Linked DNA regions of Homo sapiens. The protein of the gene in region 1 purifies or fractionates together with the protein of each later gene. This does not show direct contact. Each region holds a gene or a part of one and is shown in the gene's direction. Other genes may lie near its edges.

Region 1 (3,500 bases):
CTTTTGCCGACTACCTCGACAGCATCTACTTCAACCGTTTCCTGCAGTGGAAGTGGCTGGAAAGGTGAGCTCCCTGAAGGCTGGGCCGGGACAGGCCAGGTCGCCGGGGTTCTTCATAGGCCTTGGGCTCTCCTGCTCAGCCAGCGTTTGCTTCCCCACCCCTTGCCACAGGCAGCCAGTGACCAAAAACACCTTCAGGCAATACCGAGTCCTGGGCAAAGGTGGCTTTGGGGAGGTGAGTGGCCAGGCCAGAGCCCCTGGGAGAGTGAATAGGGTGGGTGTGTTGGGACCTGGACCACCCCCTGGATGCCCAGCAATGGCACAGCTGGCCCCCATTCGCCCCTGTCTGTCTGGCCACAGGTGTGCGCCTGCCAGGTGCGGGCCACAGGTAAGATGTATGCCTGCAAGAAGCTAGAGAAAAAGCGGATCAAGAAGCGGAAAGGGGAGGCCATGGCGCTGAACGAGAAGCAGATCCTGGAGAAAGTGAACAGTAGGTTTGTAGTAAGTACAGAAGGAGACTCTCCCTTCCCCTTGGCCACACTGGCGCACCGACCGTCCCCACCCCCCAGGCCCCACCCTCCCATGTGGGATGCCAGGAAGGGCGGGTTTGGGGTGTTGACACCAGGCTTGGGGAGCAGGCTGGGCCCAAGGAGTGGCACCGAGAAGGCTTTTTTGGGCAGCCCTGCCGCCAAGCGCCCCGCAGCTCCTGCCTGAGGGCTCGGGTCCCCTCGGCCACAGGTGAGCTTGGCCTACGCCTATGAGACCAAGGACGCGCTGTGCCTGGTGCTGACACTGATGAACGGGGGCGACCTCAAGTTCCACATCTACCACATGGGCCAGGCTGGCTTCCCCGAAGCGCGGGCCGTCTTCTACGCCGCCGAGATCTGCTGTGGCCTGGAGGACCTGCACCGGGAGCGCATCGTGTACAGGTGGGGAGGGCTCGGCCACCCCAGGGGCTTAGTCCTTCCCTGCCAGCGACTGCAGCTGGGCCTGGACGGGGGTGGCCAAGGCTGCCGATCAGGCCAGACTACAGAAGGACATTGGTTTGGGGGCTGTGGCACCGGCTTAACTCACACGCCAGGCCAACCTGAGTAGCCCAGACCTAGGCTTTGGGCTCTGCTGGACCCACGGGGTATCCTGACTTTGTCACCCCTCCACCCCCCACCGTGTGACCTTGGGCCAGGAGCTCCCTGCTCCCAACACTGCTTCCTTTTCTAGGAAGCAGAGACTATAATTCCTACTTCCCAGGTTGTTAGAAGTAGGCCCAACTTCCTACTGGAGGGGCCCAGTGAGCTAAGTACAGAGTGCCTGGCACATGGGGCTGGGTAAGAGAGAACCCTGGCTCTGATTGTTGCCGACTTCCTGTGAACCTCACAACAGCCTAGTCAGGGGACGGATGAGTAGTCCCATTTGATAGAGAGGAAAGGCAGAGTCAGTCACCAAGGGGTGGAGACTCCTTGGTCTCCACTGGGGAGGCCCCTCCGGGGTGGAGCTGTCTTCCACTCATCTAGAGAGTCCTGGGAGTCCTGGCTCTAGATCCTTCCTCTGCTCCCTTGAGTCCGGGCTGTTGCCAGGGAGAGCAGGGCTGTCTGTCGCCCTGGCAGCAAATGAGTCTCGCACCTTGCTCCACACCTGGCCCCCGGAGGCGAGTGAGCTGGGGGGGCTGGCCCCTTCTGACTCCCTGGCAAACTGAGCAGCATCTGACCCTGCTCTTCTCTCTGCACAGGGACCTGAAGCCCGAGAACATCTTGCTGGATGACCACGGTGTGTAAGGGTGCCTGGGGTGGGTCAGGGTGGGGTGAGATGCAGAGGCCTGGCCTGTTAACGGGTCCACCTGTTTCTCCACCCACACTCAGGCCACATCCGCATCTCTGACCTGGGACTAGCTGTGCATGTGCCCGAGGGCCAGACCATCAAAGGGCGTGTGGGCACCGTGGGTTACATGGGTGAGTCTTCTCTGCCCGGCCCACTAGCCTCCTGGGTTCCCTCACTATCCACCCACCCAGCCACACCCACTTCTGTCTGGGAGTCTTCTCTCAAAAGGGGCCTCAGTAGAAAGGGCCCATGCCGATGCTCCTCTTCTAGAGGTTAGGAGACCAAGACTCAGCCGGGGCCGCACACAGTTGTGAAGCCATGTCGTTCATTTGCTGAATACTTATTAAACCCTGCTATGGCTGAGCCTGCAGGTGGCTACCGGGGGATGGAGGAGAGAGACCCAAACCTGTTTCCGTGGCCCCAGTCCCTGCCCTCCCTGTGCCCATCTGTGAGGGAGGCCAGTGGAGGGGCCAACATGAGGCCCCACATTCCACCTGGAGACCGAGAGACGCAGGAGGCAGAGTCCTGGCTCTGCAGGCTCCGCCTCTTGCCGGTTGCGTGGCCTTGAACCAGACACTCCGCTGCTCCCGGCCTCACTCTGCTCCACTGGAAAACACTCATCATACCTGCCTCCCAGGGCTGCCTGGAAGATGAAAAGGGAGAGTTCAGGGAAAACTCCCCACAGGGCTGCCCTGGCAGGTAGGAGGTATTCAGAAAATAGGAGTTTCCTTCTTCTCGCTGATATTAAATCCAGAAGTTGCAAAATGGTAGCCACATGGGCCCAATTTGGCCTACATTTGTGTTTAAGTCAAACTGTTTTTAGTAAGCCAGATGGTTTCACATACAAAATACAGATTTCTGACTTCTTGTGTAAAATCTGAAGACCCGGGGACCCTGGGCGCGGCCTCCTGCAGGGCCGTATTCACCCCGCTTGATGGGGCCTGTGCTCTCCTACTGGCCAAGGTCCCCCCTGGCCAGCGGGTGTGAGTGTATCCCAGACCTAACGTGCACTGGCGTTCCTGGGGCCTGAGGGTCCACTGCCCGCCTCCTGCCCAGCCCTAACTCCCATGCCGCCCGCCCAGCTCCGGAGGTGGTGAAGAATGAACGGTACACGTTCAGCCCTGACTGGTGGGCGCTCGGCTGCCTCCTGTACGAGATGATCGCAGGCCAGTCGCCCTTCCAGCAGAGGAAGAAGAAGATCAAGCGGGAGGAGGTGGAGCGGCTGGTGAAGGAGGTCCCCGAGGAGTATTCCGAGCGCTTTTCCCCGCAGGCCCGCTCACTTTGCTCACAGGTACGGCAGCTCACAGAAGCCTGGCCAGCCAGGGCTGGGGTGGATGCACCTTTCCCTCCCTCCCACCCACTCACCTGCCTGGCCTGCCTGGCCGACTCACCCCTGCCACAGCTCCTCTGCAAGGACCCTGCCGAACGCCTGGGGTGTCGTGGGGGCAGTGCCCGCGAGGTGAAGGAGCACCCCCTCTTTAAGAAGCTGAACTTCAAGCGGCTGGGAGCTGGCATGCTGGAGCCGCCGTTCAAGCCTGACGTGAGTGCAGCCCACTCCTGCTGAGGGCGGGGCCCAGCCAGGGCTGGGGCTCAGGGGCTCTTGTAGTATCAGCCAGGATGCTTCCAGTGCAAGTGGCAGAAAAAACAATCTAGTGGCTTAGCCACAGAAATAAAGATAATTCACA
Region 2 (3,500 bases), on another chromosome or scaffold:
CTATAGGCATAATGCTGTACAGTAGTAGGTCTCTGGAACTATGCATTTTGTGTAATTGGAATTTGATACCTATTTAACAGTAGCAACTCTGCATTTTCCTTCCCCCCAGCTCCTGGCATCTACCATTCTACTCTCTATTTTTGTGTGTCTGACTATCTTAGGTATCTTACATAATCTTAGGTATCTCATATAAGTGGAATCATGCAGTATTTGTCCTGTGACTGGCTTATTTCACATAGCATGACGTGCTTCAGATTCTTCATTGTGTTTTGTCACATAAGGCAGATTTTTTTCTTTAAGGCTGAATGATACTTTTAGGCTGAACACATTCCATTGTATGTTTGACTATCTTTTTAAGGTCCTTTCCCATTCTAAAATCTGGGTAATCATGTATTTTTGAAGTTTGATTTTTTTTCCATGCATATGTGATTTTATTTTTCTAAAATTTAAACATTACAAAAATGGTTTAAACTTGAGAAAATAAGTTTCTCATCATCTGATAATAGTTTAAGTTTAAATCATTTCTTGGTTCTTCACAATATCTAAAACCATGATGAGAATACCAGGCCTGGCACAGTGGCTTGCTCCTGTAATCCCAGCACTTTGGGAGGCCGAGGCAAGGGGATCACTTGAGGCCAGGAGTTCAAGACCAGCCTGGCCAATATGGTAAAACCCTGTCTCTACCAAAGATACAAAAACTAACTGGGCGTGGTGGCATCTGCCTGTAATCCCAGCTACTCAGGAAGCTGAGGCAGGAGACTCCCTTGAACCCGGGAAGCGGAAGTTGCAGTGAGCCGAGATTGTGCTGCTGCACTCCAACCTGGGCAACAGAGCAAGACTCCATCTCAAAATAAAAAAGGCTTGGCATGGTGGTTCACGCCTGTAATCCCAGCACTTTGGGAGGCCAAGGTGGGTGGATCACTACAGCCCAGGAATTCGAGACCAGCCTGGGCAACATGGTGAAACCCCGTGTGTACCAAAATACAAAAAATTAGTTGGGTGTGGTGGTACGCGCCTGTAATCCCAGCTACCCTGGAGGCCGAGGCATGAGAATTGCGTGAACCCAGAGGCGGAGGTTGCAGTGAGCTGAGATCACGCCACCATACTCCAGCTTGGACGACAAAGCTAGACTCTGTCTCAAAAAAAAAAGAATACCTTAATACATGTTCCACCTAACTTAAGATAGATAGCTGTGCAACTACAAATGAATCCCATTCTTTTCCTTAACCACCAGAGGTAACCACTACTCAAGTAGAATTTTTAATGTTTGTCAAACCTGTTGCATGAATAGCTTTGCTTTTCTTTAGGGAAAATTTAGTTTTAATTTCCATATGGGTTTTTAGGATTTTGTATAATTACCTATAATCTTCCTTTTCCAGAAGGGAAAGATGCTTATATTTGCATTTTGCATTTTTTGATATCTGTGGCAGACTTAAGGTTTATTCTGAAGCATACAGCATTAATAATTAGGGCCTAACTTAACATCATTTTTAAAACTAATTTTTACACTTCAAATAGATGATGAACAACATGGGTGGTGATGAGGATGTAGATTTACCAGAAGTAGATGGAGCAGATGATGTAAGTCTAAAAATTCTTTTTTCTGTTTACTTTCATACTATTAAATAGTAAGAAACAACATATTTACAAATGGTTTTATATAGATTCACAATTACTTCTTATTTTCTAAAAAAAAAGAAAAGGGAAAAGCAATTTTTAAAATGTGCCCATTTTTGACGAATGGGGGTATCTATTAGGGAACTGGTTGTACCGTAGACCATTCCTAAATGGATTAGATTTCCAAAGAATCATTGTATAGAGACATTATATATTAATACCGTACTCAATTATAACAGTCAGTTTAGGCCGGGCGAGGTGGCTCATGTCTGTTATCCCAGCAGGCCAGGTGGGCAGAGTACGTGAGGTCAGGAGTTCGAGACCAGCCTGGCCAACATGGTGAAACCCTGTCTTAAAAACTTAGCCAGACATGATGGCAGGTGCCTGTAATCCCAGCTACTGGTGAGCTGAGGTGGGAGAATCGCTTGAACCTGGGAGGCGGAGGTTGCAGTGAGCCAAGATCACACCATTGCACTCCAGTGTGGGCAGCAGAGCGAGGCTCCATCTCAAAAAGAAAGAAGAGAGTCAGTTTATAGGTATGATTTTGACTAAGAAAGTAAGTTAAATAGGTTTTATGTCAGGATTGGTCAGAGACCGATAAAACAGATGGACATTGGGAGGCGGAGATGGGTGGATCATGCGGTCAAGAGTTTCAGGCCAGCCTGGCCAAGATGGCGAAACCCCATCTCTACTAAAAATACAAAAATTAGCCGGGCATGGTGGCGGGTGCCTGTAATCCCAGCTACTTGGGAGGCTGAGGCAGGAGAATCGCTTGAACCCGGGAGGCAGAGGTTGCAGTGAGCCGGATCTCGCCACTGCACTGTAGCCTGGGTGACAGAGCAAGACTCCATCTCCCCCCACCCAAAAAAAAAAAAAAAAAAAAGATGGACATTGGAAATCTGTAAGAGGAAGATACACTAAACTACTTTTCTCAACATCTTTCCAACCCCAGCATCCTGTTAACATCTCCCAGAAAGTTATTTAATGCTATTTAGAAAAACACTTAATATTCACTCAACAGCTAGGATTAGAGTTCACTGTCTTCTATCAGTCCATTTTTCTTCATATTGATCCATGTTTTCTCTTTGAATGCCGAGATAGGTTAATTTAGGAATGGATTCAACGGGTGGGCTAAATTGTCACCAAAAGGCACACATCATTTTTTATAGGTAGATAAATCCTCTGCTGTACATCCATTCACCTTAGGTAAACCTAGTCAAGTCCAATGACTAAATTTCTAGGCTTGATATGACTACCTACCTGTGCTACTTTAGTCAAAAATATAGCACTTGAACTTTTTTAGGTAAACTGTTCAGTTAGCAAACGAATATTTGATCAGCTCGGTAACTTTATTTTCCCTCTTTCAGGATTCACAAGACAGTGATGATGAAAGTAAGTGTATATAAAAAGTATGTTTATACAGTGATACTTTGCATCAAAAAACAAACTCAAAATAGAGATGTTAACTTCTTTGGAAGTAAAGTAATTTTTTCTTTATGACCTTGAATAAATAACCAAAGCAGAAATGTGAATAACTTGATAGCAAGACAACCTATTAATTCATTGGGCAACTATGTATTTCGATTTTTGGTTGCTTTTCCTTTAAGACAGTAAAATTGGTAGATTATTCACTTGTACTATATACTAATATTTTTAAAAATTCTTTCAGAAATGCCAGATCTGGAGTAAGGAATATTGTCATCACCTGGATTTTGAGAAAGAAAAATAACTTCTCTGCAAGATTTCATAATTGAGAGAATTCCTGAGTTGATAGCTCTAAAGGCAGATATGCTGTATTTGCCTACTTTAACCCATTTTTCAACCTGTTTGTTTTTTAAAAGGCTTCACTAAGGGTTGATATGTACCATTGTATGGGGCAATTT
Region 3 (3,500 bases), on another chromosome or scaffold:
TTGCTTTAATCAGGATCCCAAGTGGGACGGCATTTTAAGCAAGTGAAAAAATTTCTCTGTCTCCAGTTTGTCACACTTTGTATTTCACTCTATGGACTGTGAGCGTGGGGCATGTTTTCCTCTATGAAGGCTGAGACTCAAGGCAGAAGAGGTTTCATTTAAGACCTGAGGCTGAGACAGAGTGAGCCTGGTTAGAATGCCCCATGCGTGCCTAACTCCGGCAGGCAGACTTCAGGCACTGTTGGCTCCAGGCTCCACACAGCCACCCCTATCATTTTCTATGGGTGGGTCTTTAATTTGGGGCTTAATAGAAAGCGAGTCCATTGAGGATGAGTTAATCCACATCATGGAGTGGTCGCTATGTTCCTTTCATGACCTCTTTAGGCTCACGTGACTGCCGTGAGCATAGGAAGGACGACGGGGACAGCAGCCACGGTGGCCCAGCAGTGTGAGGCCTTTCGGGTGCAGCTGCAGCTGCCAGAAACCCACTGTCTGGGCCCTGTGTCCGCTCACGCCGTTTTCTCTCTCCCGACTCTCTGCTGCTGGAGCCTGTGTGCAATACAACCTCATCCCAGTGGCCAGGCTTCGGGGCCTCCCCTGGGAGGGCCGGGGAGGAGTGGTTCACAGGGAGATGGCAGGAAACTCTGGAGGGAGGCAGAAAGCATGGCGTGCACGGGGCGCCTGTGGGGCGTCCACCTGTGTGTCCTTCCCCATGGGAGGCAGAAAGCATGGCGTGCACGGGGCGCCTGTGGGGCGTCCACCTGTGTGTCCTTCCCCATGGGAGGCAGAAAGCATGGCGTGCACGGGGCGCCTGTGGGGCGTCCACCTGTGTGTCCTTCCCCATGGGAGGCAGAAAGCATGGCGTGCACGGGGCGCCTGTGGGGCGTCCACCTGTGTGTCCTTCCCCATGGGAACCCCTGTCAATCACACCAGCACCCTCCACCTGGGGCTGACTGGGGGCCACATTTCTATCTGCGGTGGTGATGTGAGCTCCCAGTCCCAAAGAGCTCTCTTCCAGTGAGCCACAGCCGCCCTGCTCCTTCACCCCTGCCCCTCTCCTCACCCCTGCCACTGCCCCTTCACCCCTGCCCCTCTCCTCACCCCTGCCCCTCTCCTCACCCCTGCCCCTGTCCTCACCCCTACCCCTGTCCTCACCCCTGCCCCTCTCCTCACCCCTGCCCCTGCCCCTTCACCCCTGCCCCTCTCCTCGCCCCTGCCCCTTCACCCCTGCCCCTCTCCTCGCCCCTGCCCCTTCACCCCTGCCCCTCTCCTCGCCCCTGCCCCTTCACCCCTGCCCCTCTCCTCGCCCCTGCCCTGCCCCTTCACCCCTGCCCCCTCCTCGCCCCTGCCCCTTCGCCCCTGCCCCTCTCCTCTCCCCTGCACTGCCCCTTCACCCCTGCCCCTCTCCTCACCCTGCCCCTGCCCCTTCACCCCTGCCCCTCTCCTCGCCCCTGCCCCTCCTCTCACCCCTGTCCCTCCCTGCTGTCACCCAGCACACCTTTCACCACCTTCTGATGTCATTGGGAAGCAGCTCTTAGGAAGTTAGGCAAAGATTCCTGCCCAGAAAGAGGCCAGTTCAGTTTGAGACAGACTTCTGTGGTTTTGTTGCATTTGTTGCTAAGAACAGGATTAGGAATTTGAGAGCTTTAATTTTCTGTCTCCACAGAACCGTGCCCGGAAAAAAAGGCTGAATATTATTATTGTGGCTGAAGGAGCAATTGATACCCAAAATAAACCCATCACCTCTGAGAAAATCAAAGAGGTGAGTGTGTGTAGCTGCTCACTTTCTCTCGGTTTCTGCCTGGAAGCAGGGGAGGCTAGCGTCATGGGCAGGCTTGGTTTAGAACATTGAATTATTAACTTTTTATCCTTGATATTTAAAACATTTTCATAATGACTCAGAAGTTGGACGGCAGGGGAAACACGCAGCTCCCGCTCCTGGGAGCCCATTCCGCTTACGTCACCTCTTGCCGAGCCCGTAGAGGTTCCGGGACTCCCCAGCAGACAGAGGGGGTCAGCTCGAGTGGCCACGCGTGTTCTTTGGATTAGAATGTTCCGGCTCTTAAACATGAGCTGCTCTGAGAATGAGGACTGACCACTTGGCAGCCGACCCGGGCTTCTGTTTGCCACAGTGGGAAAAGGCGGCGTCTTGCTATTCCCTGTGCCCTCCCATAACCCAGAGCATCAGCTGAGCACATTCTTACAAAGCCACTGTGTCCTCGTGGCCCTGCCTGGGAACAGGCTTTGGCAGGCTTTGGCAGGCTTCGTGCCCTGGGACTTGCTCAGGCCAGTGCCTGCCTGTCTGGAGAGGACTCTGATACCATGGGCTGTGCCCCTGCTGTAGACGGGGCTGCAGGCTGCCGGGGCTGGGGATGGGCTGTGGCTCCAGCAGCCACGGGGCAGAAGACGTCCCCACCTGGCTTTGCAAGTCGGCTTCTTTATTGTGCTTTGTTATGGTCAGTTAAGGAGCAAAGCATATCTCTGGATATGAAAACAGTGATGGACACCTGGGAAAGACATCTGCCAATATTTATAAGTGGTCATCCATAAAGTCCAGGCAAAGATTTTATTTCCCGCTTAACTGTAATTAAATTATAGGACAATGGACCGAGAAGGAACCAAGGAATTTACGTAGCCCAGCCCCACTGTCCTTACAGAGGAATAAGCTGAGTTCCAGAGACAGTCAGTGGCCTCTCCAGATCACCGGGCCGGTGTGCCCATGGGCTGGGGCGAGGGGAACGCCTTGATTGGGCTGGCTTGTGCTGTTCAAATCACAGCTGAACAAATTAAAGCTGGTTCAAGGAAGATGTTTACATTTTTTGTAAAATATAAGTAATAGTTTAAATGCAAGCTACTGAAACGTTACTTTTTTATTTTTCTTTTTTAAAGCAACGAACATATTACTTGTATTCATTTTCTAGGTGCGAGCCAAGATCTTGTCTGGTAACAACAGTATTATTTTTAAAACCAATTTTCAGCTGCCTGTTATATACACTAAACGTTCTGCTAGGAAACAAAATTTAGAAATAACTTTTCCCATTTAGATCTGAAGAAAGAGCGAAAAACCTTTTCCAGTGCCCAGTACCTCCTTCCAGATCTGGGCTGCTGTGTCCGCATCACAGTTCCGCATCCTAACGAGATGTTTCCTTGCAGCTTGTCGTCACGCAGCTGGGCTATGACACACGTGTGACCATCCTCGGGCACGTGCAGAGAGGAGGGACCCCTTCGGCATTCGACAGGATCTTGGTGAGTTGGGAAGGGTTGGGCATCTTCACAAGGTCTCTAGGAGGAAGCGTTTCTGGAGAGGCACAGGCACCAGCCGGCCACAGAGGCTGGCAAGGTGCTCCCCGAGAGATGCCCGCGGCCCGGCCCTCATCTTAACGATCCTTGAGACCTTTGGTGTAGACCAGTCTCTAGGCCTGCAGCCATTCAGATGCGGGGAGAGCTCCCTAATGTGGGAAGGCAGTGCTTGGTGTTGGCACGACGTGGACCCCAGAGGG
Region 4 (3,500 bases), on another chromosome or scaffold:
GTGATCCACCCACCTCGGCCTCCCAGAGTACTAGGATTACTGGCATGAGCCACCGTGCCCGGCCTTATAGTCACTTTTATGTTTGTGCTGCATTAATTCAAGAATTTTGTGAAAGCTATATGAAGACTAAAGGGCTTTGCCAGGAGAGTTCACCCACATACTGGGATTCAAGGAACCACATGCAAATGGCTATTTATTTGTAATTATAAAGCAGCCATTTTCATATTAATGTATGCAGAATGCCAAAGAAGCATTTTTCTTTTTTTTTCTTTGAGACGGAGTCTCGCTCTATCGCCCAGGCGTGATTTCGGCTCACTGCAACCTCTGCCTCCCAGGTTCAAGCAATTCTTCTGCCTCAGTCTCCTGAGTAGCTGGGACTACAGGCGCATGCCACTACACCCAGCTAATTTTTTAATTTTTGGTAGAGATGGGGTTTCACCATATTGGCCAGACTGGTCTCGATCTCCTGACCTCATGATCCACCCACCTCGTCCTCCCAGAGTGCTGGGATTATAGGCGTGAGCCACCACGCCCGGCCTTTACCTCAATTTTTTTAAAAAAATGAAAAAATAGAAGGTACTGAATGGGCCCTATTTGGCACTTCTTGTCTTAGAGCCTTCGTTCCAAATATAGACCCTAGCCTGACATCCACAGAGGGTTTTGATGGTATTGCTGAAGAAAAATGATTCAGTTCATTGATATCCTTTGCTATTAACAGTTGTTAGTCCCCTATGGCTTCATCTGTACAATTATTAACTCCTTCTGTGCCCATTATTGAAATTAGTTTTTAGATGGGTTGTTTCAGCAGAGTTTTCTGTACTATAGCCAGGCTGTTCCAAGAAAGTACCCTTTTCTACCTTCCCAAATGTTGCAATGCCCTTTTGTGGTTCGTAACCCAGAAATAGGTGTTTCAGTTCATGTAAGTGTTGCCATTAAGGAATTGGGTATAGAACCCAACTTGGTTTGTTTGGCCTGTTAGTCTGGCTGCTACCCCTTCCCCCACCCTTACAGTCTGCTCATTTTTTCCCTTGGCTCTTTCTCAGGAGCTGGGGCAGCAGCTGGGCCTTCCACATCCTGGCACAAGTGGGCTAAGAGTGCCTGATGTCTAAATTGGTGCCAGTCACGAGCTATAAGTCCTAACTAGAGCTCTCATTTTCCTCAGTCTCATTGGACGACTTCTTACTGTGGTGCTAGAGTGAGCCTCTGCCCAGGTCAGCTCATAACTGTTGCTGTGAGACCACAGACTTTAGGAGAACTGGAAGTTTAGGATTTCTTCAGACCTCTCTTTCACTTTTTCCAGCATTGGCACAAGCTGACTAGTTAAGGTTCTGCATTTAGAGGTAGGTGGATTAGGAACCCAGAACAGGCTGCTGGAAGTAATTCTCTGGTTGTCACACCTTATTTAGCTATAAGTGTTCAATGTGAACCAAAGCCTTATGAAGATTGTTAGCCTTTTACCCTGTTTCTCCCTTGAAAATACATTCTAAGATGCTTCTCTTCAATATATGTGAGTTACTATTGTGCTGCTAAAATTGCATTTAAAGGCCAGGTGCAGTGGCTCACATCTGTAGTCCCAGCACTTTGAGAGGTCAAGGTGGGTGGATCACTTGAGCCCAGGAATTTGAGACCAGCCTGGGCAACATGGCAAAACCCTGTCCCTACAAAAAAATACAAAAATTAGGCGGGCATGGTGGTGCATGCCTGTAGTCCCAGCTACTCGGGAGGCTGAGGTGAGAGGATCACTTGAGCCTGGGAAGTCGAGGCTGCAGTGAGCCATGATTGTACTACTGCACAGAGCTAGACCCTGCCTCAAAAAAAAAATCCAAATAATATAGGTAGATACTCCTCCCTCCAGGAGGTGGAGTTTAATCTTCCCCTCCCCACTGAATGTGAGCTGGACTTAATGAATACCTTACAAATAAAAGAGTACCAGAAAGAGAAAAGTAGTAACTATAGTGCAGAGACCTGGCAGACATACCTTAACCAAGTGATAAACATTAACATTGCCAGTGATGGAGAAGCCATGTTACTATCTTATATCCCTGATATGATATGTTGAGAAGGGTACTTCACCTCTGTGATATTCTTTTTTAAAACCCATAACCCCAGTCTAAACATGAGGGAAACATCAAACAAATGCAAATTGGGGAACCTTCTATAAAGTACTTCTTTAAAACTATCAAGGTCATGAAAAACAAGGAAAGACTAAGAAACTTTCACAGACCAGGAGAGACTAAGAATTCAAGATGACTAACTGCAATTTGGTATTCTTAATTGGATCCTGGAACAGAAATTTGGCATTAGTGGAGAAACTATTGAAATCTGAATAAAGCCTAGAGTTTAGTTAATAGTGTGTATCAGTGCTAACCTAATCTCTTAGTTTTGACACTCGTACATAGTTTCACAGATGTGTGCCATGTAAGACGTTAACATTAAGAGAAACCGAGTGATGGCTATACGGGAACTCCGCACTGTCATTGCAACTTTGCTATAAATGTAAAATTATTCCAAAATGAAATATTTCTTTTAAAACAATAGTCTACCTCTCAACCCTTAACTATGCATTTTCCCTCCCTGAAGGCAACAAATGTTATTAGTTCCTTTTATATCTTCCAGAGATGTAAATAAATGCAAATAAAAACAATCCCCCCTCCCTTTAAAAACAATGCTACGCACATATTATATACACTGTTTATACACACTGTTATTTTAGATCTTGACTCATTATCAGTATATATGTAGCTTCAGTCTTTCTTCATTTGTCTTTTTAAAAGTAGCTACAGGCCCGGTGTGTTGGCTCATGTCTGTAATCTCAGCACTTTGGGAGGCCAAGGCAGGCGGATCACTTGAGCTCAGGAGTTCGAGACCAGCCATAGGCAACATGGCAAAAGCCCCATCTCTACTAAAAATACAATCCAGCCTGGGCAACAGAGCAGGATGCTGTCTCAAAAAATAAAAATAAAAAAGATTAAAAAATAAATAAAAGTAGCTACAGAGAATTCCATTGTATGGATGTACTATAATTCATTTAACTGGTTTCTTATTGATGGGCATGTGTTGTTTGCAGTCATTTACTGTTACGAATAATGCTGTATTGAATAACGTTATACATGCATTATTTTGCACTTTCACAGTACAGTTAGCCCTCCATATCTGTGTGTTCTGCATCCTTGATTCAAGCAACTGCAGGTCAAAAGTATTTGGGGGAAAAAATAGCAACTGTACCAAACATGTATAGACTTTTTTCCTGTCATTATTCACTAAACAATACAATGTAACAACTATTTGCGTAGCACTTAGATTGTATTAAGTATTATGAGTAATCTAGAGATGATTTAAAGTATACAGGAGAGTGTCCATAGTTTGTATGCAAATACTCTTACCATTTTATATAAGGGTCTTGAGCATCCACAGATTTTAGTATCCTCAGGAGGTCCTGGAGCCAGTCTCTCATGTATATACCAAAAGATGACTAGATAGCTAGAGGATAAACTTCTAGC
Region 5 (3,500 bases), on another chromosome or scaffold:
CCACCACCCGCCCTCTGAGATGGACAGGGTGTCCAGGCCTCCCCTACCCCCTGTCCTCTGAGATGGGGAGGGTGTCCAGGGCCTTGCTTCTCAGCGTGGGACTGACAGGTTTGCCCTGACCTCCACAGGCATGAACGCTGCTGTCCGGGCTGTGACGCGCATGGGCATTTATGTGGGTGCCAAAGTCTTCCTCATCTACGAGGTAAGGCCAAGGTGGGCTGTGTGTGTGCAGGGAGTGGGGACCTCCTGAGGCGCATGCCGAGGTGTGTTCTGTGTGGGTCACACTGGGAGACGGGGTGGTCCTGGCCTGGAGGAGCTGATGGGTATGTGGTCTTGGGGAGTGTGAGGGGGAGCTTGGGGCCAGGCCAAAGGCATCTGCAGAAAGAAGACCTACTGCCTTGGGACTCAGCCCGGCTGGAGGCTCAGAGGCTGCAGAGCACGGGCCTGGGGGCAGGGAAGGAGCTGGGTGGACAAGGAGTCGAGGCCCTGCCTACAGTGATCGCTGACGGGCCAGGCCCCACCCACCACACCCCTGCCTGGTGTCCCCCAGCCTGGCCCTTGTCCCGCCCCGAGGCCTCTGTGAGTGGGGGCCAGGGACCTCACCGCCTCTGCCCTTGTCCTCCCCAGCCTCCTGCCTCACCACCCAGACCCGGGGGGCAGCCGCTGGCAGCAGCTCTGCTGTGTCTATGTTCATTGTGTCCCCGCAGGAGCAGCGGATGCCCTACTGCCTCAGCCCCAGTCCCCGTGGGAGATTTGGGGCTCGCCCTCCGTCCTGGGTATTTACACACCCACACTTGCGCTCACACATGTGCACACACAGGCGCATTCACACACTTGGGCCACACCACGCACTCACAGGCTGCATTCTTGCCTTGTCAGGTGGTTTTCCACATTCCACAAGACAAGGTCTTTTGTTATTTTGTTGCCACTTTTTATGTAATATGTAGCTGTTTATATAAAATGTAGCAACCCCAGCTCTGCAGCCCCAGGCACTCAGCCCCACCCCCCTCACTGCTCACTGCTCGCTGCTGACCACTCACCGCCCTGGGTCTCAGTTCCCCCATCTTGGCCCCAGGGAACAGCAGCCTGTCCAGCCCTCCCTCTGCAGGACTGTGTGAATGAATGAGTGAGTGGGCAGTCTGTGCTGGCCCGTCCTCTCCCTGTGGCCAGGCTGGGGCCCTGCCAGTATTGGATTAGGAAGCAGGTCTCAGAGCCCTGGGGAGCTGGGTGTGGGGGCCTCTCTAGGCAGGCTGGGCTGTGTCCGTACAAACCCCTCCTGCCACCTGCTCGACCTTCAGTTTCTTCTTCTAAGTGGCAAAGGGGAGAAATTAGGGTTTTCCGGAACCCCCACACATTTGTGGTTGGGAAAGACTCCTGTGGCAAAAGACAGAAAACAGGTTCATCGGTGCAGGGCGTGTCCTGGAAAAGGGGAGAAGAGGCACTTTGCCGTGCCTAGAGTCCTGGCTTCTGCAGAGCCCAGCAGAGACCAGTGCACATGGAGAAGCCGAGGGGTACAGGGACGCAGCGTGAGGCCCTCGGAGGTGGGGGAATGCAGGAGGGTGAGTTTATGGGAAAAAGAATGAAGTGGGTGGGCGCGGGTCCTGGGGCTGTCTCTGGGTCCTGAGGGCTGTGAGGGGCATTTACATCCTGTCCAGGCGGTAACAGGAGGAGCCTTAGTCTTGGGATGCTGTGTGCTGCTTTCCTCTCAAAGGGAGGCAAGGCTGAGAGCTTCCCTGAATCTGCTGCCTAGTGGGCTTTAGCTCAGAAACATCCACATCTAAGAGGCAGATTTTGAGATGAGACATTCTGATATAGCGGCCCAGGGAAGACTTCCCCTCCGTCCCATGAAGGTTCTTGGAAGAATCCACTTGCGAAAAGCGGATTAATAGGGCAGAGGTGCTGGCATTCATTGTGAATAGGCATGGAGAGGTAGGGCGAAGATGCTGACCTGCCCTCCTCCCAGGGAAAGGGGCATGGGCAGCCTGGATGATTCTAGGGGGGTAGGAATTTTTTTTTTTTTTTTTTTTGAGACAGAGTCTCATTCTGTTGCCCAGGCTGGAGCGCAGTGGCACAATCTTGGCTCGCTGCAACCTCTGCCTCCCAGGTTCAAGCAATTTTCCTGCCTCAGCCTCCTGAGTAGCTGGGATTACAGGCACCCACCACCACGCCCAGCTGTTTTTTGTATTTTTAGTAGAGACGGGGTTTCACCATGTTGGCCAGCCTGGTCTCGAACTCCTGGCCTCTGGTGATCCACCCGCCTCTGCTTCCCAAAGTGCTGGGATTACAGGCGCGAGCCACTGTGCACGGCCATGAATGGTTTTTAGGGGATTCAATGGGCTTGGACAGCATCTGTTAGCCCTGGTGACCACCTGCCCAAGTGTGTTGGCAGACACAGGTCTTTCTTCCTACGATGACCTCAGTGCATGGAAACTCAGGGAGGGGACTGGCCGTCACTGTTCCTTTCTCCAGCAGCTATGGGCTTTAGGCAGATTCGGGGGCTTCAGGGAGCAGCTGCATCCTGAGCTTGGAGGAGGCAGAGGGTCGAGAGGCAGAAGGGGGAGGTCAGGGAGACCTGCGGCTGCGTCAGTTCACATCAGACTGCATTTTGGGTTTCTGAGCCCCCAGCGCTGGCTTCCTTCAGCAGGGAGACCGATCCCTTCTCCTTGGGGCTATTGTTAGGGCAGAAAGGGAGGGTGGCCTTGGAGGTGAAAACCCTTCTCAGTTCTGACACAAAGGAGGGCTCAGAACAGGCTACTCTTATCCCCCCAGGCAGAGCCCACAGCATAGCAGGGAGGGCCCTGAGCCTGGGTCCAGGCCTGCAGGGGTGAGAGGAGGGGGCGGGGCTAGAGGGGAAGGAGGGGAAGGTGAGCTGGGCCTAGGAGGACAGAGACGGAAACAGAGTGGGTAGAGGGGGGCAAACAGCTTCTAGAAGATTCCAAGGGTAGGAGGAGGTTGTGTCTGTGAGACTGATTCCAGCAGAACTGAGCCACTGGCCTTGTGGGGTCTCTGGGGACTGCTGGGCTGGCCATACCTGCCTGCCCCTCCGCCCAGTGGGGCAGGGGCCTGGCTGGCGCCTGGGCTCTGTATTGGATCCTGAGTTTTGCAGACAGACCTGTGTTTGGTGGCCTCCTGCTCAGGTGGGGCTGTGGGTTTGGGATCATTTTCCTGTTTTCCTTGTTCCTAGCTCAGGGCTGGTACAACCAGAGGGGGCCAGGCTGGCCTGGCCTGAGCCGGAGGAAGTAGCTCTGTGGTCCCTCAGATCAGCCCCTGAGATGGGGCAGGGGCACCTGTCCCCCAGCCCAGCTGGTGGGGAAGGGAGGCTGTCAGGCTAGAAGCCCGCCATGGCCAGAGTGGGGATGTTCATGCGCCCCGCAGCGCGCACTATCCCTTGACCCCCTGCCTGCTTGAGGCACTTGCCCTCCTGGCCCCCAGGGCCCTGACACCTGGTTGGGGAGAAGGCGGAGGGAGGAGCAGAAGCCCACAGCTGAGCTGGCATCCGC
Region 6 (3,500 bases), on another chromosome or scaffold:
CACCCAGGCTGGAGTGCAATGGCATGATCATAGCTCACTACAACCTTTGCCTCCCAGGTTCAAACAATTATCCTGCCTCAGCCTCCCGAATAACTGGGATTACAGGCACATGGTACCACGCCTGGCTAATTTTTTGTATTTTTAGTAGGGATGGGGTTTCACCATGTTGGACAGGCTAGTCCCGAACTCCTGACCTCGGGTGATCCATTCTGTCAAGCTTGATTCCTCCCATCTTGGGCCAAGGGCCCCTCCTTTCTTTCGTGCTACCGAAATAGAAGCAAACCTGTGTTTAGAGTTCCCTTTTCTGTCTCATTTACCTGCATCTCTCATTGATGCAGGCCTCCCAAAGTGCTGCGATTACAGGCATGAGTCACCGTGCCTGGCCGAGTAGATTTTTTTTCTAATCTCCAGAAGAAAGCACCGTAAAAGTCCCTGGCATGGTTAACAAGGCCTCTAACTCCCAGGCAGCTGGGCTGAGACCTGGTGAGGAAAAAACCAGAGTCAGATTTGTCCACTGATGCCAGATGTCTTCCTGTAGAACACAAACAGCTCCTAAAAAATGCGCAGCTGGAACTGAAGAAGAGTAAGAGGAAAGATTACTACAAGATTCTAGGAGTGGACAAGAATGCCTCTGAGGACGAGATCAAGAAAGCTTATCGGAAACGGGCCTTGATGCACCATCCAGGTAGAGTAGGTGCGGGGAGTGGGCTCAGTGGGAAGAACCCGCAGGGCAGGCCAACTGCCACACTCAGTCCAGAGGGGACCCCTTGGAGAGGTCCTTCAGCTGAGAATAAGGTGTTGCAGACTTGTGGACCCTCCAAATTTTGGGAAGTGCCAAATTCCAAAATTAGACAGAAAGTAGTTTTTCTCTTAAACTTTGTTTTCTTGAAACTTTGATTTCCACTGAGTTGTTCTTTTACTCCCCACTTTAGATCGGCATAGTGGAGCCAGTGCTGAGGTTCAGAAGGAGGAGGAGAAGAAGTTCAAGGAAGTTGGAGAGGCCTTTACTATCCTCTCTGATCCCAAGAAAAAGACTCGCTATGACAGTGGACAGGACCTAGATGAGGAGGGCATGAATATGGGTGGTGAGTTGGCTGGGGCAGCCTGGGATGAATTTGACAGCTGTAGAATGTTAGAATTTTTTCCAAAGATGCTCCAGAGGGAGAGTCTATTTGGGCCAAATCTGATCCCTGGTCCAAACAGTAATAGACATGGAGTCAAACAAATGCAGTCAAATGTGGCAGGTTCACAGTGTGCAGTGAGCTCTGAGGAGGCGAGCACTAGCAAGGGAAGGCTTGGAAGTGCAGAAAAGCATGGCCCCATGGGTCATGCCTGTAATCCCAGCACTTTGGGAGGCCAAGGCAAGCAGATCACTTGAGGTCAGGAGTTTGAGACCAGCCTGGCCAACATGGTGAAACCCTGTCTCTACTAAAAATACAAAAATTAGGCTGGGCGCGGTGGCTCATGCCTGTAATCTCACCACTTTGTGAGGTCAAAGCAGGTTGATCACCAGGTCAGGAGTTTGAGACCAGCCTGGCCAACATGGTGAAACCTCGTCTCTACTAAAATACAGAAATTAGCCAGGTGTGGTGGTGGGCGCCTGTAATCCCAGCTACTCGGGAGGCCGAGGCATGAGAATCGCTTGCACCCAGGAGGCGGAGGTTGCAGTGAGCCGAGATTGTCCCACTGTACTCCATCCTGGGCGACAGAGCAAGACTTTGTCTCAATTAAAAAAAATAATAAGAAGAAAGAAAAAAGAAAAATTAGCCAGGTGTGGTGGTGCACACCTGTAATCCCAGCTACTTGAACCCGGGAGGTGGAGGTTGCAGTGAGCCAAGATGGCGCTACTGCACTCCAGCCTGGGCAACAGAGTGAGACTCCATCCCTCCCCACTAAAAAAGCAAAGCATGGCCTCTTTGGGGATCTGCAGGGGGCTTGGTCTAGGGAAGATAAAGGGATAGGGTGCTAGAGGCAGGTGGTGGTGGAAGGCCGGCAAGTAGCTGGATCAGAGCTCACAGGCCATAAGGGCTGTATGTGGTAAGGAATATGAGCATTTTCCTATTATCTGGAAGTTCTTTTTTACCCACTGCAAAGTGTATGCTGACATTTATGTATGTCATACATTCCTATAAACACTCACAGATTTTAATTTCCCAAAAAGATTTAGCATGATATAAAGCACACCTATTGTCAATATTGTTGCTCACTGTGGGCTGTCAGAGATAAGAGGCCCTGACCTGTGAGCTGGGCGCGGTGGCTTACGCCTGTAATCCCAGCACTTTGGGAAGCCAAGGCGGGCAGATCACCTGAGCTCAGGAGTTCAAGACCACCCTGGGCAACATACAAAATACCAAAAAAATTGTACTCTCTACTAAAATACAAAAAAATTAGCTGAGCATGGTGGTGCATGCCTGTGGTCCAAGCTACTCAGGAGACTGAGGCACCAAAAACTCTTGAGCCCAGGAGGCAGAGGTTGCAGTGAGCTGAGATTGCGCCACTGTACTCCAGCTTGGGTTACAGAGTGCGACTCCATCTCAAAAATTAATTAATTAATTCAGTCAGTCTTCACTCTAAGTTGTCTGCCAAAAAATTTGCTGGGCATGGTGGCTCACGCCTGTAATCCCATCACTTTGGGAGAACAAGGTGGGCGGACCACAAGGTCAAGAGATTGAGACCATCCTGCCCAACATGGTGAAACCCCGTCTCTATGAAAAATACAAAAATTAGCTAGCCATGGTGGCGCACGCCTGTAGTCCCAGCTACTTGGGAGGCTGAGGCAGGAGAATCGCTTGAACTCGGGAGGCGGAGGTTGCAATGAGCTGAGATCGCACCACTGCACTCCAGCCTGGCGACAGAGCAAGACTTGTCTCAAAAAAAAAAAAAAAAAGAGGACCTGACCTGTGAATGGTGAACAGACCTACCATCTCTTCCACTAAGAAAATCTATTGGGATTTTGTTTTTTGTTTTGTTTTGTTTTTTGAGACGGAGTCTTGCTGTGTCACCCAGGCTGGAGTGCAGTGGCACCATCTCGACTCACTGCAACCTCCGCCTCCAGGGTTCAAGTGATTCTTCTGCCTCAGCCTCCCGAGTAGCTGGGACTACAGGTGTGCGCCACCACGCCCAGCTAATTTTTGTATTTTAAGTAGAGACGGGGTTTTACCATATTGGCCAGGCTGATCTGGAACTCCTGACTTCGTGATCCACCCACCTCGGCCTCCCAAAGGGCTGGAATTACAGGCGTGAGCCACCGCGCCCGGCCTTTTTTTTTTTTTTTTTTTTTTTAAGACTGAGCCCAGTCTGGGTGCAGTAGTGCCATCTTGGCTCACTGCAACCTCTGCCTCCAGGGTTCAAGCAATTCTCCTGCCTCAGCCTCCTGAGCAGCTGGGATTACAGGCATCCACCCCCATGCCTAGCTAATTTTTATATTTTTAGTAGAGACAGGGTTTCACCATGTTGGCCGGGCTGGTCTTGAACTCCTGACCGCAAGTGATCTACTGGCC
Region 7 (3,500 bases), on another chromosome or scaffold:
AACCCCCATCTCCACTTTGCAGAGCTAACCACTGCTACCAAAGATACTCTGCTCACACAGAAGCACAGGACTCTTACCCACACATACCTTTTTAAAAATACTTCATTAAATACTTTCGTTACTCTACTCTTAGATGAACTTGAATGTCATGTTATATTAAGTATCAAGTTATATTAAAAACTTCCTTTTTCAAAAGTGGCAGAATACAACATTGAGTCTTCCCATCCAAGACAATTGTAAAGCCTCTTCCTGTCTCAGGCTCTGTTTTGGTGACATGCTCAAGTCTTATAGTAGATTTTAAGACACTCATGAATGGGATGTGTATGTACCTTGATTTAGTAGTGCTTAAATACTTGTTGAAGGAATGATAGCTTTAGGCTGAGCTAGCTCTACTTTTGTGATGTTATTTGTACTTACTTGATGTTCAATCCCTACACTCTTGTTTTTTCTGTCAGAAAATATGGTCTACTTTGCCGGGCGTGGTGGCTCACGCTTGTAATTCTAGCACTTTGGGAGGCCAAGGCAGGGAGATCACTTGAGGTCAGGAGTTTGAGACCAGCCTGACCAACATGGAGAAACCCCATCTCTACTAAAAACACAAAATTAGCCGGGCGTGGTGGCACGTGCCTGGAATACCAGCTACTCAGGAGGCTGAGGCAGGAGAATCGCTTGAACCTGGGAGGTGGAGGTTGCGATGAGCCAAGATCTCACCATTGCACTCCAGCCTGAGCAACAAGAGTGAAACTCCGTCTCAAAAACAAACAAACAAACAAACAAAAAAAAAAACAGAAAATATAGTATATTTTATTGTATTTTCTAGGAACAGAAAGCTGAAAAAGTGAGTCTTGTCTCTATTGGTAAAAGTATACCTTAAATACATTCATACACACACTCCTAATTAGCATATTTTTGATTAAATGAGAATGTGCTTTGACTTTAATTCATTATGTTCCTTCAACAGAGAAATTGGACTTGACATTTCATTCTTTCAATTACCCCCTCTTACAGGATATTAATGCACACGCCTGTGTTACTGGTAAACCCATCAGCCAAGGGGGAATCCATGGACGCATCTCTGCTACTGGCCGTGGTGTCTTCCATGGGATTGAAAATTTCATCAATGAAGCTTCTTACATGAGCATTTTAGGAATGACACCAGGGTTTGGAGATAAAACATTTGTTGTTCAGGTAAAAACAAAAACAAAAAAAGTTTCCTTAATAACTGATAGACATTAAGTAAAGTTTTCAATGTTTTTAGAATTGTAATTTTAAAATTAAGTTATCTCAAATCTCTTAAATTTTAGAGTGGTGGTTTTCAGAGTAATAGATATTTTGTTTTTTGAACCTTGGTATGATTCATGTAACTAGAACTGATTTAAGTATCTCTCAAGTACATGTGAAACTGTTACCAACTTCAACCAAACTATCACCAAATTCAACCAAAATATTGGTTAGTATTCAAACTTGAAATTATAGCTAGAAGGGCAAGTCTCTTAACATAATTTTCTAAGTTTTGTAAGTATATAGAAAGGTTTACACACTGACCCAAATTTGTTTCATGTGTTAACATGTATTTTACTTAGGAGAATCTTAATTAAGTTGAAATTACTTGAAAATAGAAGTGGTGGCTGGACACAGTGGCTCATGCCTGTATTCCCAGCACTTTGGGAGGCCAAGACGGGTGGATCACTTGAGGCCAGGAGTTCGAGACCAGCCTGGCCAACATGGTGAAACCCTGTCTCTACTAAAAGTAGAAAAATTAAGCCGGGCGTGGTGGCTCACGCCTGTAATCCCATCACTTTGGGAGGCCAAGGTGGGCAGATCACGAGGTCAAGAGATCAAGACCATCCTGGCCAACATGGTGAAACCCGGTCTCCGCTAAAAATAGGAAAATTAGCAGGGTGTGGTGGTACACGCCTGTAGTCCCAGCTACTCTGGAGGCTGACGCAGGAGAATCACTTGAACCCGGGAGGTGGAGCTTGCAGTGAGCCGAGATTGCGCCACTGCACTCCAGCCTGGGTGACAGAGCCAGACTCTGTCTCAAAAAAAAAGAAAGAAAAATTAGCTGGGCATGATGGCGGCACCTGTAATCCCAACTACTCAGGAGACTAAGGCAGGAGACTCACTTGAACCCGGGAGGCAGAGGCTGCAGTGAGCCAAGATTGTGCCATTGCACTCCAGCCTGTGTGAGAGAATGAGACTCGGTCTCAAAAAAAAAAAAAAATTGTATTTCTCCAAATTAGTGACATCCCTTTTCACAACATAGGACATCTGATCATCAAGGACTGAGGACCTGGTGGTGTACTTAACACCACTGCCATTTATTGATTGATTGAGATGGAGTCTCACCCTATTGCCCAGGCTGGAGTGCAGTCTCGGCTCACTGCAACCTCCACCTCCCAGGTTCAAGTGATTCTCCTACCTCATTCTCCCAAGTAGCTGGGATTACAGGCACGGACCCCATGCCTAATTTTTGTATTTTTAGTAGAGACGGGGTTTCACCATGTTGGCCATGGCTGATCTCGAACTCCTGACCTCAAGTGATCCACCTGCCTCAGCCTCCCAAAGTGCTGGAATTACAAGCGTGAGCCACCATGCCCGCTCATCACATTCTTAAACAGAGAATTTTATTGTTGAAGAGAAACCAGTTAGTACATTGTTTCTTTTGGCAAAAGAATTTTGAGAATTGCTTCTAAATAAACAGAGTATGGATTTACATTGGTCAAAATATGACTCTTGCTGTCTATACCAGGACTTTAATTTTTGTGTTATGGGTAATTGTTCTTCACAGGGATTTGGTAATGTGGGCCTACACTCTATGAGATATTTACATCGTTTTGGTGCTAAATGTATTGCTGTTGGTGAGTCTGATGGGAGTATATGGAATCCAGATGGTATTGACCCAAAGGAACTGGAAGACTTCAAATTGGTATTAATACATTTTTATAGCATAGACACTAAATATAAATATTTAAAACTCTGGTGCAGCTATTAATTGTGATTTTCAATCAATGGCAGCAACATGGGTCCATTCTGGGCTTCCCCAAGGCAAAGCCCTATGAAGGAAGCATCTTGGAGGCCGACTGTGACATACTGATCCCAGCTGCCAGTGAGAAGCAGTTGACCAAATCCAACGCACCCAGAGTCAAAGCCAAGGTGACAACATTATAGAAACCAGAACCAACATTATCAATGTGAATGACGTTAGGGGGGTCATAGAAGAGTCTGATTGAGTTTTCTCTTTCTTTTTAGCAGCTTTATTGGCACATACTGCACATACCATACAGTTCCCCCATTTAAGGTACATAATTTAATGGCTTTTAGCTACCGGCACAGAGTTGTGCAACCATTACCAAAACAAACGCATCTGCCTGACACTCCTGTAAAAAAAAAAAACAAGCAAACAAAAAAAAAACCTAGATAAATAGAAAAGTGAAAGGTAGTTTTATACACTTGGCAGAGAAAAATAACCTCTATTTAACTTTAACTGAAACTGTGCT

What was found.
Region 2: the proteins of GRK6 (region 1) and PTGES3 purify together in Homo sapiens (affinity purification with mass spectrometry; one large-scale study listed by BioGRID and IntAct). This does not show direct contact.
Region 3: the proteins of GRK6 (region 1) and PFKP purify together in Homo sapiens (affinity purification with mass spectrometry; one large-scale study listed by BioGRID and IntAct). This does not show direct contact.
Region 4: the proteins of GRK6 (region 1) and MMS19 purify together in Homo sapiens (affinity purification with mass spectrometry; 2 studies listed by BioGRID and IntAct, with this or other methods). This does not show direct contact.
Region 5: the proteins of GRK6 (region 1) and PFKL purify together in Homo sapiens (affinity purification with mass spectrometry; one large-scale study listed by BioGRID and IntAct). This does not show direct contact.
Region 6: the proteins of GRK6 (region 1) and DNAJC7 purify together in Homo sapiens (affinity purification with mass spectrometry; one large-scale study listed by BioGRID and IntAct). This does not show direct contact.
Region 7: the proteins of GRK6 (region 1) and GLUD1 purify together in Homo sapiens (affinity purification with mass spectrometry; one large-scale study listed by BioGRID and IntAct). This does not show direct contact.

What each region holds. Positions count from the first base shown.
Region 1 is NC_000005.10:177,433,176-177,436,675, forward strand, and holds part of GRK6 (G protein-coupled receptor kinase 6), read left to right. Parts: coding exon 1-64; intron 65-171; coding exon 172-235; intron 236-360; coding exon 361-501; intron 502-738; coding exon 739-929; intron 930-1,726; coding exon 1,727-1,764; intron 1,765-1,856; coding exon 1,857-1,946; intron 1,947-2,897; coding exon 2,898-3,106; intron 3,107-3,217; coding exon 3,218-3,355; intron 3,356-3,500.
Region 2 is NC_000012.12:56,664,285-56,667,784, reverse strand, and holds part of PTGES3 (prostaglandin E synthase 3), read left to right. Parts: intron 1-1,518; coding exon 1,519-1,581; coding exon of another isoform or gene 1,582-1,629; exon of another isoform or gene 1,630-2,978; intron 2,979-2,984; coding exon 2,985-3,009; intron 3,010-3,286; coding exon 3,287-3,306; 3' UTR 3,307-3,500. UniProt on the Homo sapiens protein: Cytosolic prostaglandin synthase that catalyzes the oxidoreduction of prostaglandin endoperoxide H2 (PGH2) to prostaglandin E2 (PGE2).
Region 3 is NC_000010.11:3,105,548-3,109,047, forward strand, and holds part of PFKP (ATP-dependent 6-phosphofructokinase, platelet type), read left to right. Parts: intron 1-1,666; coding exon 1,667-1,762; intron 1,763-3,153; coding exon 3,154-3,246; intron 3,247-3,500. UniProt on the Homo sapiens protein: Catalyzes the phosphorylation of D-fructose 6-phosphate to fructose 1,6-bisphosphate by ATP, the first committing step of glycolysis.
Region 4 is NC_000010.11:97,488,423-97,491,922, reverse strand, and holds part of MMS19 (MMS19 nucleotide excision repair protein homolog), read left to right. Parts: intron 1-3,500. UniProt on the Homo sapiens protein: Key component of the cytosolic iron-sulfur protein assembly (CIA) complex, a multiprotein complex that mediates the incorporation of iron-sulfur cluster into apoproteins specifically involved in DNA metabolism and genomic integrity.
Region 5 is NC_000021.9:44,306,553-44,310,052, forward strand, and holds part of PFKL (ATP-dependent 6-phosphofructokinase, liver type), read left to right. Parts: intron 1-128; coding exon 129-202; intron 203-707; coding exon of another isoform or gene 708-776; intron 777-3,500. UniProt on the Homo sapiens protein: Catalyzes the phosphorylation of D-fructose 6-phosphate to fructose 1,6-bisphosphate by ATP, the first committing step of glycolysis.
Region 6 is NC_000017.11:41,979,440-41,982,939, reverse strand, and holds part of DNAJC7 (dnaJ homolog subfamily C member 7), read left to right. Parts: intron 1-538; coding exon 539-685; intron 686-932; coding exon 933-1,085; intron 1,086-3,500. UniProt on the Homo sapiens protein: Acts as a co-chaperone regulating the molecular chaperones HSP70 and HSP90 in folding of steroid receptors, such as the glucocorticoid receptor and the progesterone receptor.
Region 7 is NC_000010.11:87,060,344-87,063,843, reverse strand, and holds part of GLUD1 (glutamate dehydrogenase 1, mitochondrial isoform a precursor), read left to right. Parts: intron 1-1,008; coding exon 1,009-1,188; intron 1,189-2,791; coding exon 2,792-2,929; intron 2,930-3,018; coding exon 3,019-3,156; intron 3,157-3,500. UniProt on the Homo sapiens protein: Mitochondrial glutamate dehydrogenase that catalyzes the conversion of L-glutamate into alpha-ketoglutarate. Plays a key role in glutamine anaplerosis by producing alpha-ketoglutarate, an important intermediate in the tricarboxylic acid cycle.